Regions from separate parts of the Homo sapiens genome. Here region 2 is linked to region 1. A link means that fine-mapping ties the variant in region 1 to the expression of a gene that starts in the linked region. Tissue or cell type: whole blood. Region 1 holds a variant in brackets; the other region holds the start of a gene. All regions are shown on one strand. Distances are from middle to middle.

What was found. PIP is the estimated chance that this variant, and not a neighbour inherited with it, causes the effect.
Region 2: NDUFA6-DT starts here. The variant in region 1 is fine-mapped to the expression of NDUFA6-DT in whole blood (TOPMed, PIP 0.93).

Annotation. Positions count from the first base shown.
Region 1 is chr22:42,289,910-42,298,009 of GRCh38, reverse strand. It overlaps a transcript of TCF20 not described here. Among named protein-coding and RNA genes, the nearest start is that of TCF20, 23 kb to the right of the region's middle. RefSeq lists enhancers at 1-249, 2,564-3,377. The variant G/C (reference allele first, on the strand shown) is at 4,850.
Region 2 is chr22:42,086,323-42,094,422 of GRCh38, reverse strand. It overlaps NDUFA6-DT (NDUFA6 divergent transcript), which reads right to left and starts at 3,490. Exons shown (of 5, transcript NR_034118.2): 1 at 3,242-3,490; 2 at 2,823-3,126; 3 at 2,191-2,304. It overlaps NDUFA6 (NADH:ubiquinone oxidoreductase subunit A6), which reads left to right and starts at 3,651. Exons shown (of 3, transcript NM_002490.6): 1 at 3,651-3,817; 2 at 7,248-7,363. The coding sequence starts at 3,679.

The sequences.
Region 1 (8,100 bases):
ATGCTGAAAAGCCCCACCACTTTGTACAGATGTGAGCAGCTGGGCTGAGCGGTCACCTTTGCACCCCCAGGCCCAGCCCTGAAACCAGCACATGTTCATCCTTGCCTGCTCTGCATGGGTGCCAGAGAGGAGCCCTGCTGTGAACCCTCCATGTGTTCCTTCCACCCTGGGTCTCATCTCCTCACCATCAGCCAGGAATGCTGGGCCCTGCCTGACAGGGGCCCCAGCTGGTGGGGGGATGCGACCCGAGGCCTTCTGTTGTGGTTTGTGGGGCAAGAGGGGAGTCCACACACATTTGTCTGAATTGTGTGGCTCAAGATTCTCTCTGGCCAGTATTTCCTAAGTCTGCCTGGTCTGGGTTGGGAGAAGAGGTTATGAAGGGGAAGCTCCTGGGGGCTGAGCTCGAGGCTCAGGGATCATGGGCTTTCATGGCTGACCCTGTGAACTGCCCCTCCCCAGTGTCTGGCCCCTCCAGCCCAGCCATGGGGCTCACCCAGCTGTGCCCTTGGAGGGTGCTCAGGAGGCAGTGGGGGATGGGAGAAGGTTGGGAGGGGCTCTGATGAGTTCTTGTTGCTGGTAAAAAGAAGGCACAACCAGTGTCCTTAGATTTACCGTCTAATGCAAATGAGGACCCACTCCTCATTCTTGCCGCTCCATGAATATGACCAACCCTTAAGCCAGCTAGGGAGTCTGACCTCTGCTCAGGCCTGGCAGGGGACAGGAAGTAGCTCCTCACCTGTTTTTCTTTTTTCAGCCCCCTGGTCAGTTCTACAGCGTAGCCCTCTCTGATCATGCCCATTTTCCAGATGGGCAGCCTCCTTGCCCAAGGTCGCCCAGCTGGGCCATCCATTGTGGGTATGGGCACTGAGGCCTGCCTGAACCAGTAGTGCATAGGGGTTGGGACACAGGTTCTGGGGCCCAAGTTTAAACTGACTTCTCCAGTTTGCTGTGTGGTTCTGGGTGGGTTACTGCACCTCTCTGAACTCAGTTGCCACATCTGTAGAGTGGGTTTAACTATAGCACCTTCCTTTGGAGAGATGTCAGTGCCGGAGTGCATGGAGCACCTGGCATGGAGTGAGTGCTTGCTGAGTGTCAGCTGTAGTTGCTGCTGTTTTTACTGTTATTTGACTTGAAAATCTCCCCCTGCTCCTCGTGCTGCTTTCTCATTCGCGAAAAGCTGAGCTGAATAAATGGCGACGGGGCCTCCTGGGTCCCCCTGCAGCGTGATTACATCCCTGAGCCCTGCTTGGGGCTGGCATCAGCAGGGCCCCCTTGTGGCTCGGGTGGTGAGGAGAAACTTGGCCCTGTCGCACTGCCTGGCTGGAGCCCTGTTTGGGGGTGGGGGTCTCAGCCCTGCCTGGCCTGCCTCCCGGCTGACAGCTCGGGCACTGTGAGCTGGCTGCCAGCCAAGCTGCTTCCTCTCTGGCTGGCTGGCATCCCGGGCCCAATGCCAGGGGGCCGGCTGGTGGGCAGCAGCTCGAACGCCGCAGGGCTGTGATCCCGGCCAGGAGACTCCAGGCAGGGCTGGGTGTTGGGGCCTCCAACTGCCCCTCATGGCCCTTGGGGAGCCGGGCACAGCTGCACTGGCTCTCGGCACCACCCCCAAGTTGGCGCCGTTGCAGGTTTGCAAAGCAGCAGCAAAGAGTGCAGCCAGGGCAGTGGGAGCTGTTCACATCCTCAGGCCTGTCTCACAGGGTCAGACACTGAGCCAGTACTTGCTGAGTGTCCATGTGTCCAGGGCCTGTGCTGGGGGTCAAGGACACAGCATCCCGTTCGCTGAGGCCTGGCTCGGGGAGGCCAGGCTGCTGCTGAAGATGATGATGGTGGTCATGATGGTGATCCTGCACTGCCAAGCACTCACCTGCCAGGCAGGGGTCTAAGTCCTGACACATCTTCACTCGGTAGTCCTCACAAAACTCAGATGGGCTAAGGACTGTTCTTACCCCCATTTTACGGATGAGGAAACAGATCCATCTATAGCTAGAAAACGGGGAAGGCAAGATTGGAACCCCAGCTTGCTGGCTTCAAAGTCCATGCCCTCAGTGATGCCCAGGGTCTTGTGGAGGGCAGCCTGTACCATGTGGGAACTGGTCACGCTGTGTGGAAAGCCTGCCTGGAGGAGGAGGGGATGGGTATATGGGTTGGGGCTGAAGGCTGCACAGGATTTCTGCTGCTGAGGTGGGGAGTTCAAGGAAGGCTTCTCTGAGGAGGTGTCATTTAGGCTTTGGCCTGAAGGACATGAGCTGGTTGTATGAAAACATAAGGGAGTAGGCCGGGCGCGGTGGCTCACGCCTGTAATCCCAACACTTTGGGAGGCTGAGGTGGGTGGATCACTTGAGGTTAGGAGTTCGAGACTAGCCTCAACATGGAGAAACCCTGTCTCTACTAAAAATACAAAATTAGCCGGGCGTGGTGGTGCCTGCCTGTAATCCCAGCTCCTCAGGAGGCTGAGGCAGGAGAATTGCTTGAACCTGGGAGGCGGAGGTTGCAGTGAGCCGAGATTGTGCCATTGCACTCCAGCCCGGGCAACAAGAGCAAAACTCTGTCTCAAAAAAAAAAAAAAAAAAGAAAAGAAAACATAAGGGAGGAGCATCTCAGGGAGGGGGACAGCCAGGGCAGAGGCCCCAAGGCAGCAGCAGGCTTGCCAGGTGGGAAGGACCAGAAGGCAGCCCAGCGGTGGGGAGTGTGGAGTGAATGGGGCTGAAAGGGTAGGGCTGGCTCACAGAGGGTGGGGAGGCTGCAGCAAAAGAGGAGTTTAGGGTGGCTATGGTGCAGGGGCAGCTGTATGCTTCACCTCAAATGTTACTGTCTTCTCTCTCCATCAAGGAGGAAGGGCCCAGGCTGGGGTTAGGAGGCTTAGGGACCAGACTGTGTCACCCTCTCTCCTCCTGTGCCCTGCCCCCCACGCTGTCATCTCCCTCAGTGGCAGTGGGGGTTCATCACTGGGTCTTCAGGTCCCTTGCCCATGGCTGGTGGTGTTCCAGGTGGGCCCAACCAGGCGGCCCCTGCCTCTAGGCAGCGCGTAGGTTTCCTTGGGCAGCCTCAATCCTGCCAGCGCCAGCATGTCTCCCTGCACAGAAGCCATCAAGCACCTTTGGATCCTATCTGAGGGTCATCCCTGTCCCCCAGGGCCCTCCACCCAACCACAGCACCGGTGTGTATTCCCCTCTGCAGGCTGCCAGGCACTCCGCCTGCACCTGCTGCAGTTGGACAGTCCAGGCGTGGTGTGTGACCACAGCAAGCCACTGCCCACCTCTGAGCCTCATTGTCCTCATCTACAGAGTTGGGACATCAGCGTCTACTTTGTGGTTGGCTGTGAGGCCTAAATGAGATAATCTCCATCAAGTCCCTGCCAGGAGCCTAGCCTGGCCTCCATCAGTGGCCGCTGTTGAAAATGTGAGTCCTAAATCCTTGTGACCGCTGGGCCCAGCACCCTGGACAGCAACAGCCTGGCCCTGCCCTCTCCCGGAGCTGGGAGGGAGGGCCCTTTCCCAACCTGCTCGCCTGGGAGCACTGCCTGCCAGTGACTTCCCTGCCTCTGCCACGCCGACCCCCAGCAGCCTTCCCTGGCCTCCCTCCCGCTCCTGGAGTCTTTAGTCTTCAGCACAGTCTGGTAATTAAAAACCTTCAAGGGGAACTTTATTGAGTTAGCATTAGTTATTTTGTCAGGCTGGGAGAGCAAGAGAATTATCTGTCCTCCGGGAGAGGGGGCTAGGGCGGGGTCGCGGGCTGAGATTGGCAGGTGCCTGCCAGTGTAGTGCACGCAGGGTTTGTGCTCTATTAATGCACCGCACTGCAGGTGCAGTGGCAGGATGTGACCGGGGTGGAGCGGGCTGGCGGGTGTGTGTGTGGGGAGGGAGGATTCCCCACTGTGAGGCTGGCCCTGCGGGGATGTTCCCACTTCCCAGGCTCTTCCTGGCTCCTGTCCTAGGGCTCTATCACTTCCTGGCTTTCAAAACAAGCCCCTGTGAGAGCCCAAATGGAGACATGGGCAGCTGAGGGCGTTCTTTGAGACGGAGTCTCCCTTTGTGGCCCAGGGTGGAGTGCTGTGGTGCAGTTTTGCCTCACTGCAACCTCCGGCTCCAGGGTTCAAGCGATTCTCCTGCCTCAGCCTCCTGAGTAGCTGGGATTACAGGCTCATGCCACCACACCCGGCTAATTTTTGTAATGTTAGTAGAGACGGTGTTTCACCATGTTGGTCGGGCTGGTCTCAAACTCCTGACCTCGTGATCTGCCCGCCTTGGCCTCCCAAAGTGCTGGGATTACAGGCCTGAGCCACCGCGCCCAGCCTGAGGGCATTCTTTTCTTACTCCAAGCTGGGGGCTAAGCCTCTTGCCTCCCCAGGCCTGCCCTTAGGCTAGGGTTGGCCAGTGGGCTGGTTAAGGTGCCCCAGGCCTCCTCCCTACCCTCCCCTTCCCATAGCCTGAAGATACCCCCTTACAGAGTCAGGCAGGGACACCTGAGATTGGGAGCTCTGTGACCTTGGCTGAGCCCCCTCACCCCGCTGTCCTCAGACTCTCATTTGTGGAATGAGAACCACCCTCCCCAGGTAGTCATGCAGGATAAAGGAGGTCAAATGGGAATTCCCACCTCCAGGAAACCACCTGGTTTTATTCCCCTGGGTCTGTCTGAATGCCGAGCCCTAGGGAATGAGCTGACCTTTGCCCTTTTTGTTTGGCACCCACCTAGGGACAATACTCTGAATCCTGGCAATAACCTTGCAAGACAGGTGTATCCAGCTCCTGTTTCAGTTGAGCACACTGGGGCTGGAGCAGGGTGGCAGTTTGCTCAGAGTCAGCCAGGAGTGGAGAAGCTGGGTCTGACCTTGGATCTTCCCCCTATTCGAGGG[G/C]CTGGGGGGCCAACACTACACTATTGAATCTTTTAGGGAAGGTGCCAAGGAAGGACACTTGGCCTCCTCCTGGGCTTGGGCCTGGCCAGGAGGCCTCCTGCTGGGAGCTGGCCCCGGGGCTTTGTATCCTGCCCTGCCTTGCCCCAGAGCTGGGCCCCACTCCCTGGCCTTTCTGCCCTGCCTATGAGGCCCAGCTCCTGAAATTCAAACCCCGCCACTCCTGGTGGGCAGGACAGAGTGGGAGGGGGATGTGGGATCTAGTATCCAGCGCTGGGGACAGTGGAAGGGTCACACCAGCCATGTGTCTGTGCCGCTCAAGCTGAGACCCGGTCATTCAGTAGATTCTCCTGGGCCTGGGCTAGTGCTCGGCCGGCCCTGGAGGCGCAGAGGGGCTGGCTGGGAGCAGAGAGGCCTGAGAATCCAATCCGAGCCTTGTCTTCCTAGCCGTGGGGTCCTGTGTCCCAGGTGTGTGCTGCTTTGCAGCTCAAACAGGCCTCCTTGTCCTCCAAGTTCCTGCTTAAACACCCCCTCTTCTGGGATGCCTTCTGGGATTTATCCAGGCCACCGTGCTGCCCACTCTTCTGGCATCTCACAACCTACCTTGGTTACAGTTGACACGCAGGATGTTACCTCATTGAGGGCCAGGCTGAGCCCTTGTTATGTCCCTATCCTCAGCGTATGTGCTGGGTCCTAGCTGAGTCCCAGCTCTGCCTCGGATTCCTCATCTGTCAAGTGAGTCCAGGGCACAGAACCATGTTTGGGGACTGCAGGGCAGGATGAGGCCAGAAAGGGCTCCTTCTGTGGCATCCTTGACCTAGTGCACGTGGCCTGATTTTAGCACTGGGGCCTCAGCGGATCAGGACACGGAACACGCAGGCCCAACCCTGGGAACTGTAAGGTATTGCCTACTACCGCCGTGGGACCTGGGTGAGCTTTCTTCTTGCAAAATGGGGGTGCTGACCCTCGTCCATACCCTGTGAGACTATGGGCAGAGAGCCCAGCATGACAGGAGGGCCTATGGGTGCTGTGCTAAGTTTCTTTATCTAAGAAATGGGAGTGAGGCCCCATTAGTGCTCACGGGTCTCATACGAGGGGTGGTGTGTGAGAGGTGCCTGCTTTTACCCAGGTCAGAGACCTCAGGTCCACAGGGGCAGGAGACAATAGGTGCTGGCTGTTGTCAGGGAGGATCATGGAGCCAGGGGCCTGACCTTCCTCCCTCACATCTGTGGTTTCAACTTGGATGCTCTTAATCTGTGCTGGAAAGGAATTGGGTAGGGCCCCACCCCCTCACGCTAGCCCTTCTGCTTGCTTCTTTAGGCTGGGCTGCCTTTGTGTGTATCTGTGCTCTGGACCAGAATCAGGAGACCCTGGCTCAAGAGGCCCCTCCTAGGCATCTTGTGGCCCCAGGACTCCACCTTTGCCCAGCCTGGGCTAGGCCAGGCAGCCGGGTCAGGATCCACCTGGATCCACAGCAGTCCTGCCCAGCACCCCATCTGTTCCCCTCTCAGCCACACCCTTCTTGCTCTCCTCTGATTCCCCATGCAGGGGCTGCCTTTGCTGCATGCACCATCAGGAAAACTGCTCTCTTGGCAGATGACATCTCCCAGAGGCGGTCCCAGCACAGGCACTGCTGCTGCTGCCCCAGGGCTCATAGTCCAGACGGTCCAGCTGCTTTGCCGAGGGGCAGCCCTGAGGCCTATGACCTCCAGCGGGCTCAGGACACACATCTGTCTACCCTGGTCGAGACTCTAGTATGGAGATCCCCTTCCTTTGCCGCTCCACACACTGCCCTCTCCTCAGGGAATGCTTCCTCCTGGAAGCCCTGTCTAACCCCAAGGCTGTGGGGAGGGCCCCTCCCCTGGGGCTCAGGCTGGACCGCGGTCATTGGTTTACTTACTTTCCTTTCCACCAGACTGTGAGCTTCTTAAGTAACATCATGCATTTCTGGATCCCTGGCACACAGGAGGCACTCAATAAATGCTTGTGTTTGTTGGACAGTTTGTGGGGACTGGGAGGACCTTAAAATGTTCAGAGAAGAGGAGATGGAGTCCCAGAGACGGGAAGGATGGGGCATGGAGTGAGGCTCCACTGTCCAGAGGAGAGGACCCTAGGTTCCGATCCTGGCAGCCTGGGGACGGATCTGGCTGGACCCCTTACTTCACCTCTCCATGCCTCAGTTTCCTTATTTGTAAATGGGCATTTTCAAGCTGCCTCTCATGGTTGTACTGAGGTTGTACCGAGGTAAGGTAAGAGGGGGTGCTTTGCAAAGCCCCTGAAGATGTGAGTCCTCCCAGCACTGTTCTAGGGTCTTCAGTGGACCAGGATGGGCAGCAGGCCTGCCCCAAGGCCCCTGTGTGCTCTGGGAGGCTGACCTCGTCCTTGAATTGCCTTGAATTGTCCTTGAGGCCAGCATCTCATCCCAGCCTCATCCCCAGGCCTAGTGTTAGCCCAGCGACCAACGCTGAAGGGGCAGGCCCAGCGGTGTATGCTGCAGCCACAGCGAGTGGGCTCAGGGGCACGCGCTCCTTCTCCTCTGGTACCCTCCAGAAACCAGAAGCCTTTCCCTCCCAGCCTGCCCTTGGCTCTAATATCACAGGCCACACTGTGGGGAGAGGGTCCCCTGCCTGTGCTAAGCAAAGGTCAGGAGCAGAGGCCTCCCACGTGCCCCCAGCCTGCCCGCTCCATGGCCTGGTCACACCCACAGCTGACCCAGCCTCCCTTCACTGGGGTTTTTATATTTTGAGCAGATGAAAGATTCTGAACGATTCTCATTCCGTGTGTTTTGGCTGGGATTAGCTAGCCCCTGGCTGCCAGTTCCTCGGAGCTCTGCTGTGTTGAGAGGACATCAGACGGCCTGTGCTGGGCCGCTTCTCAGGGGCCCCGAGCCTCCTGCACATCCTAGGGCAGGGTACTGGGGGTCAGGACTGGGAGAAGAGACAGGATGAAGGGGGCAGGCCCTGCTGCAGGCTCTGGCCCACCTCTGGCCCTGGCCCCCAGCAAGGATTGGGGCCCAGCCCTGCCTCCTGCTGGCCCTTGTCCCCCTGGCTGACCCCCGCTCCCCAAGCAGCAGCCGGCGGTGCAGGGGGCGCATGCGTGCGGCGGGAGTGAGCCGGCTGTGGAGAATTAATATTCCTGGAACATCGCCCCGGCCGCCTGCACACGCCGAGGAGAATATTACGGCGATTAGCGGTGGGAGTTCGGCCTGCACGCAATATCTGGATGGAGAATTCGGTGTGATTAATCTGGCGCTA
Region 2 (8,100 bases), 200 kb after region 1:
CAAGTGATCTACTGGCCTTGGCCTCTCAAAATGCTGGGATTACAGGTGTGAGCCACCGTGACTGGCTGTGTCTGCCTTTTTCACTCTAGCCATTCTACTGGGTGAGAAATGGTATCTCACGAGGGTTTTGATTTTTATTTCCCTAATGGCTCATGATGTTGAATGTCTTTTCATGTACTTATTGGTCACCCGTATATCCTCTTTGGAGAAATGGTTATTCAAATACTTTACCCATTAAAATAAAAATTTCATCTTTAAGAGCAGTTTCGAGTTCACAGCAAAACTGAACAGAAAATACAGGGTTCCCCCACCCCACACACACTCATAGCCTCCCCCCACCAACAACATCAGGCACCAGAGGATATATTTGTTATAAGCAATGAAGCTACATTGACACACCAGTATCACCCATATCCCATAGTTTACATTAGGTTTCATTCTTGGTGTTGTACATCCTGTAGGGTTTGACAAATGTGTAATAACATGTATCCACCATTATAACATCCAGAGTAATTTCACTACCCTAAATATTCTCTGTGCACCACCTCTGTGCATTTCTCCCCACTCCCAGCCCCTGCCATCTTTTTTATTGTCTCCATAGTTTTGCCTTTTCCAGGATGTAATATAGTTGGAATCATACAGTATGTAGCTCTTTCAGATTGTCTTCTTTCACTTACTAATATGCATTTAAGGTTTCTCCATGCCTTTTCATGGCTTAATAGCTCATTTCTTTCTAGTGCTGAATATAGTCCATTGTCTGGATATACCAAGGTTTATTTATCCATTTACCTGCTAAAGGACATCTTGGTTGCTTTCAAGTTTTGGCAATTACAAATAAAGCTGCTGCTGGCCGGGAGCGGTGGCTCACGCCTGTAGTCCCAGAACTTTGGGAGGCCAAGGCGGGCAGATCACGAGGTCAGGAGATCGAGACCATCCTGGCTAACATGGTGAAACCCCGTCTCTACTTAAAATACAAAAAATTAGCTGGGCTTCGTGGCAGGCGCCTGTAGTCCCAGCTACTTGGAGGCTGAGGCAGGAGAATGGCGTGAACCCAGGAGGCAGAGCTTCCAGTGAGCCGAGATCGCGCCACTGCACTCCACCCTGGGTGACAGAGCGAGACTCCATCTCAAAAACAAAAACAAAAACAAAAGCTGCTGTAAACATCCATGTGCAGGTTTCTGTGTGGACATAAGTTTTCAGCTCATTTGGGTAAACACTAAGGAATGCAATGGCTGGATCTTCTGATGGGAGTATGTTTAGTTTTGTCAGAAAGCCAAACTGTCTTCCAAAGCTGCTGTACCATTTTGCGTTCCTACCAGTAAGGAGAGTTCCTGTTGCTTCACATCCTCACCAGCATTTGGTGTTGTCTCCCTTGCCCATTTCTAAACTTGGCTATTTGTCTTTTCATTACTGAGTTGTAAGAATTTTATGTATCCTAGATACAAGTCCCTTATGGAACATGTGATTTGCAAAAATTTTCTCCCAGTTTGTGGGTTGTTTAGAGGTCTTTTTTTTCTTTTCCTTTTGAGACAGGGTCTCACTCTGTCGCCCAGACTGGAGTCCAGCGGCGCAATCTTGGCTCACCGCAACCTCCACCTCGCGGGCTCAAGCGATCCTCCTGCCTCAGCCTCCCGAGTAGCTGAGATTACAGGTGCCCACCACCATGCCGGCTAATTTTTGTATTTTTAGTAGAGACGGGGGTTTCACCATGTTGGCCAGGCTGGTCTCGAACTCCTGACATCAGGTGATACACCTGCCTTGGCCTCCCAAAGTGTTGGGATTACAGGAGTGAGCCACTGCGCCCCATTTTTTTTTTGAATGTTGAACACAATGAATTTATCATGATAGTGGGTACTTCTGAAGGAGGCAGGGGTATACACAAGGTTAGAATCATACAGGTAGATATCATGGTATAGGTGCTGCGAGAGTCAGAAAACTGACTCTGGCACCAGCTGCCTGGGCTTCAACCCCAATGCTGTAAAGTAACTTAGTCTCTTTGTGCCTCAGTTTTCTCATCTATAAAATGAGTATATCAGCCGGGGGCAGTGGCTCACACCTGTAATCCCAGCACTTTGGGAGGCTGAGGTGGGTGGATCACCTGAAGTCAGGAGTTTGAGACCAGCCTGGCCAACATAGCAAAACCCCGTCTCTACTAAAATACAAGCATTAGCCATGCATGGTGGTGCGCACCTGTAATCCCAGCGATTCGGAAAGCTGAGGCAGGAGAATGGCTTGAACATGAGAGGCGGAGGTTGCAGTGAGCCGAGATTGCACCATTGCAGTCCAGCCTAGGTGAGTCTCACTCTGTCTCAAAAAAAAAAAAAAAAAAGGGTATATCAACACAATCTCACTGGTGTGTTGTGAAGCCTAGCCAAGTTAATGTACCTAGAGAACTAGAGAACAGTGGCTACTAAGGACATCTAAGGACACTTTATACAAACCTTAACTGTGTTACAACTTCTTAAGTCAGTACTGAGGTTCAAAAGCTTCCATTTTATTATTATGCTTTATAATTTATATATGTTACGTGCTTTCTTTTGTATAGCTCACTTGAATATATATATACATTTTAGAAGATAATAAGGAAGAAAAAAAGTATATCTGGTTTTTTAACCCTTCGAAATGGGAAAGTTTGGAGTAGATGCTCAGCCCCGGCCCCTGGCCCTTCCCCAATACTCACAGGCTCCTGTCAACTACACCTTCAGAAAAAGACGGAGCCTCTTAGGCAGCAGTCAGGCAGGTGGGGGCGATCTGTCAGGTGACCTAGACTCTGGGCCATCTCAGTTTCCTCACCTGTAAAATGGGGATGCTGAGGTACCTACCTGACCTATGAGAGCGGAGAACACTGAGATATCTTGCCCATGGCCTGCCCTGTGGTTAGCTGTCGTTTTTTCCTTGACACTTGTAGGCTCCTCTTCATGTTTACATAACCTCAGTGGGAAAACGCCAGCGAAGAGAGACACTCAGAATGGACGATCTAAAGTTCCTTCCAGCTTCCAAATTCTGGGCTGGTTTTCAGAGATCCAGGGCTCGGGATGCGAATGTCCCTGTCTACGATGGGGCTGCCGTTACAGCCTTCCTCCCGGGGCTCTGGAGACGCGCCAGCTCTTTGACACCTCTCCTGCGCTAAGGAAGAGTTGGTTTACAGAAAAGTAAGTATATCCTGGCCCTGCAGAAAGCCGCCAGGCGGCAGGACAAGCCCCACCGCAGCCCAGGCGCCATTATCTGCCTCAGCAGTTACCTCGGGGTCCCGCCACGAGGAGGTTCTTCAAGGCCTGCGCGCCCACGGACACTACCAAGGAGCGCGGCGGGCAGCCGGATAGCAGGACGCTGAGGGAAACCCCGCAGTCGCTCGGCGTCCCCGGCGCCAGCTCACGACCCAGCGACCTCCTGCGGCCCGAGCGTCCCCTGGCGGCAACGCCGGCTCGTTAGAGCGAGCGACAGATGGTGTAGTCCAAAGGCCAAGCGGCGTTTCTGTAGATGAGCATGCGCAGCACCCACCGTTCGCTCAGCCAGAGAGAGGCTTCCCAGCCAATCCGAGAGCCTCAGAGTCATCCTCCCGCCCACCCAGCATACAGGCGGGGCGTTCCTCCTTAGCCAATGGGAAAAGACATTCGCCCGCGGTCCGCACGCGCTGCTTGCAAAGGGGTGGGGTTGTGGAGTGGATGCTTTGGCAAGATGGCGGGGAGCGGCGTCCGCCAAGCTACTTCTACCGCCAGCACCTTCGTGAAGCCCATTTTCAGTCGGGACATGAACGAGGCCAAGCGGAGGGTGCGCGAGCTCTACCGCGCCTGGTATCGGGAGGTGCCGAACACTGGTGAGAGGTAGCGGCTTACGTGGGGACCCGGAGGCCGCCGCTCAAGGTCGTAGCCGGCCCGGCCGGGGTTTCTCATGGGCCCAGCTGAGGTCACCAACTTGGGCAGAGGCGACTGCGGGTGCTTCAGGGGAAGAGGGTCACCCGAGCCTACCATGGGCCGGACCTGGCGGCGGCGCGGTGGTCAGACCGGCCGTGCCTAGCATTCGTACGTGCTATCGGAGCTTTGGTCTCTTTTGTCCTTCGCAATTGGCGGGAGGACGATGACTGTCAGTGACACACTCACTTTGTGGGTGAGGCAGCGGAGGCACCGAGAGGTGAAGTGATGTGCCCAGGGCCCAGGCCGAGCCACTGTTGTACCCAGAACCCAAAGTCTAGAGTTGCAGAGTGTAATTATAGATGCCCGTTGGATTTTTTTGTTTGTGACAGAGTCTCGCTGTGTCGCTCAGGCTGGAGTGCAGTGGTGCGATCTCGGCTCACTGCAAGCTCCGCCTCCCGGATTCACGTCATTCTCCTGCCTCAGCCTCAGCCTCCCGAATAGCTGGGATTACAGGCGCCCGCCACCACGCCGGCCATTTTTTTTTGTATTTTTAGTAGAGACGGGATTTCACCGTGTTAGCCAGAATGGTCTCGATCTCCTGACCTCGTGATCCGCCCGTCTCGGCCTCCCAAAGTGCGAGAAAGAGGTGTTTTTGAGTGAGCTGGAGCACGGTGCCACTCCTCAGGGCTGTCGAGTCCCTGCTTGTGTGTGTGAAAAGGCGGTAGAATGTGGTGGTTAGGAGCACGGACTTTTCTTCAGGCGCTGCCCTCAACTAGCTGTGTGACCTTGGGCCAGTTATTTCATCTATTCCTCAGTTTCTTCATCTTTAAAATGGGAATAATAATTCCTTCTTCAGAAGGTTACTGTATTAAGTTAAAATATCTAGAGTGCTTAGAACAGGACTTGATGCATATTTAACTCATTAAATATTAGCTGCTGCCGTTGTTTTTGTTGTTATTTTTGTTATTTATAGGGCTTTCCTTAGCAGCAGCTTCCAAGCAGAACCCGGTTCTTTGACATATGAGAACTGTGTCTGCTCCACAGAGTCCCTGTCTTCAAGCTGACTTTTGGAAAAATTGCTACTGACCAGAACTTAAACCCACGCGATACTAGAGAAGGAGAAACTTGAGTGATCTGCTGGTTCAGGGACTGCAAATTCAGATGCCTTCAGGGGCAGGCAGATAAAAGATGTGTGTGGGGAGTGACTGTAGCAGTGTGTGTGTGTGTGTGTGTGTGTGTGTTTCGGGGTGGTGCATTCAAATTCAGCAGTTTGAAAACATAATGTTTGCCTGGCAGAATACTTCTAGGAGTACCCAGAACCCTCTCTGGTTGCAGGAGGAAGGTGCTGGGGGAAGGAGGACCACATTCAAAAAGGGTGGCTTGTGAAGGGTAAATCAGTGGCCAAGTAGAAGACAGAACCCAGGTATCCTGACTCTGAGGATCCAGCTCTTTCTAAACCGACCCCTCCCAAGACCTTCCCTCAAATTCTGTTTTGGGAAGAAAGTCCCAAAGTCAGAAGGGTCTTGAGAGGAGGAAAAGAAGGCAGAGGGCTACAGGAGCCTAGAAAGCAAGGGAAGAGGAGAGAAAAGAAGGGGTCAAGGAGTATGCATCCCTATGGGGAAGATCAGTGATCTGTAGCTGGCCAGTTACTCAAACCTGTGCCACACGGGTTTTATGGTATCCATCATCAGGACTCCAGCTGAGGAATCAAATCAAGGAAGGGGAATAAGTAATAGTGTTGAGAACTTAGAACAGCCTGAGCATTAATAAAAAACAAAAGTAAAATTTTAAGTATTTAATGAAAAAAACAGTAATGATAACTCACTTTTTTTTTTTTTTTTTTTTTTGAGACAGAGTCTCGCTCTTGTCTCCCAGGCTGGAGGGCAATGGCGCGATCTTGGCTCACTGCAACCTCCACCTCCCGGGTTCAAGTGATTTCCCCATGCCTCAGCCTCCCGAGTAGCTGGGATTATAGTTGCGTGCCACCACACCTGGCTAACTTTTGTATTTTTAGTAGAAACGGGGTTTCACCATGTTGGCCAGGCTGTCTTGAACTCCTGACCTCAGGTGATCCACCTGCCTTGGCCTCCCAAAGTGCTGGGATTACAGGCGTGAGCCACCGCGCCCAGCTAATAAAATAATAATTATTTTTTTTGAGACGGAGTCTCGCTCTGTCGCCCAGGCCGGACTGCGGACTGCAGTGGCGCAATCTCGGCTCACTGCAAGCTCCGCTTCCCGGGTTCACGCCATTCTCCTGCCTCAGCCTCCTGAGTAGCTGGGACTACAGGCGCCCGCCACCGCGCCCGGCTAATTTTTTGTATTTTTAGTAGAGACGGGGTTTCACCTTGTTAGCCAGGATGGTCTCGATCTCCTGACCTCATGATCCACCCGCCTCGGCCTCCCAAAGTGCTGGGATTACAGGCGTGAGCCACCGCGCCCAGCCTTTTTTTTTTTTTTTTTTTGAGACACAGTCTCACTCTGTCACCCAGGCTGGAATGCAGTGGCCCATCTCAGCTCACTGCACCCTCCACCTCCCGGGTTCAAGTGATTCTCCTGCCTCAGTCTCCCGAGTAGCTGGGATTACAGGCACCCACCACCATGCCCGGCTCATGTTTGTATTTTTAGTGGAGACGGGGTTTCACCATGTTGGCCAGGCTGGTCTTGAACTCCTGACCTCAGGTGATCCACCTGCCTTGGCCTCCCAAAGTGCTGGGATTACAGGCGTGAGCCACCGCGCCCAGCTAATAAAATAATTATTATTTTTTTTGAGACGGAGTCTCGCTCTGTCACCCAGGCTGGAGTGCAGTGGTGCGACCTCGGCTCACTGCAAGGTCCACCTCCCGGGTTCACACCATTCTCCTGCCTCAGCCTCCCGAGTAGCTGGAATTACAGGCACCCACCACCACACCCGGCTAATTTTTTGTATTTTTAGTAGAGACGGGGTTTCACTGTGTTAGCCAGGGTAGTCTCGATCTCCTGACCTCATGATCCGCCCACCTCGGCCTCCCAAAGTGCTGGGATTACAGGCGTGAGCCACCGCGCCCAGCCCATAAAATAATTTTTTAAAAAATACACTCAGGCACAAGAAAGTTAACTTACACGGGATCATATAGCTAACAAAAGCTGGGATTTGAACCCAGGTTGTTCAAACTCTTGAACAATGCTTTACTGCCTCTTCAAATTCAGTGGTCTTTTTCCCCAAACAAATAATAAGTTCCTTGAGAGCAAATACCATGAATCACATGTCTCATCCTCAAGCACCTAGCCTAGGGTCAGGCTAATTTTTTGGTGAAGAAATGAATGGGCGACCTGTATGTGTTCAATGAGTATCATTTGACTCTAGGTTTTATTTAACCATACAATTTCTACCCTGAGTCATGTTTTTCTCTCTAGTGCACCAATTCCAGCTGGACATCACTGTGAAAATGGGACGGGATAAAGTCCGAGAAATGTTTATGAAGAATGCCCATGTCACAGACCCCAGGGTGGTTGATCTTCTGGTCATTAAGGTAACTGACCCTCCCTGACCAATTTAAAAGATCAGCCAACTTGTCCACTACTTCTTAGTCTTTCCAAATGAACATTTTGTCTCCAAGTTTAGAAAGCAGCTACTGGTTCGGCAGTGATTATTGCTGTGTTTCAGAGAAATACTTGAACTTGGAGGTTATCATCTGGTTAAATAGATAAGATTCATCAAGGGAACATCCACTGGGACTTGCATTTTATAACCATAAAAAAAGATATAGGGAGGAAAGTTTGAACTCTTCTTGAACCTCATCCCTAGAAGTTACCACTTCATCTGAATGCCAGTTTACAGCTGGAAGAGGCAGTTAGGGTGGTTATGAGTCCTGTATAAATGGACTCAAATCCTGGGGCTGATTCTGTCCCCCTGGCCAGTCACGTTAGCATCAATGGGAGCTTCAGCATAGACCAGTCAGTAACAGAAGAAATGATAAGCAGAAACATAAGTTAAGCCAGTCAGGTTAGGTAGTCATGGGATAGGAGCCTGTTAACCTGTATGTTTCTCCTCTTGGTACCAGTTAACCACAGAGTTAAAGAATCTGAAAAGTGTCAGAAATGATTTACCCTGACCACCTCATTGTCCAGACATAGAAACTTTGCCCAGACAGAGTAGTTACTTGCCCAAGGTCATTCAACAAGTCCATGCTGAGCAGAGAATAGAATCCTGGCCTTCAGTGTCATATGCCTTCAACTTGACAACTTTGACTGATGACCTCTCTCCTCA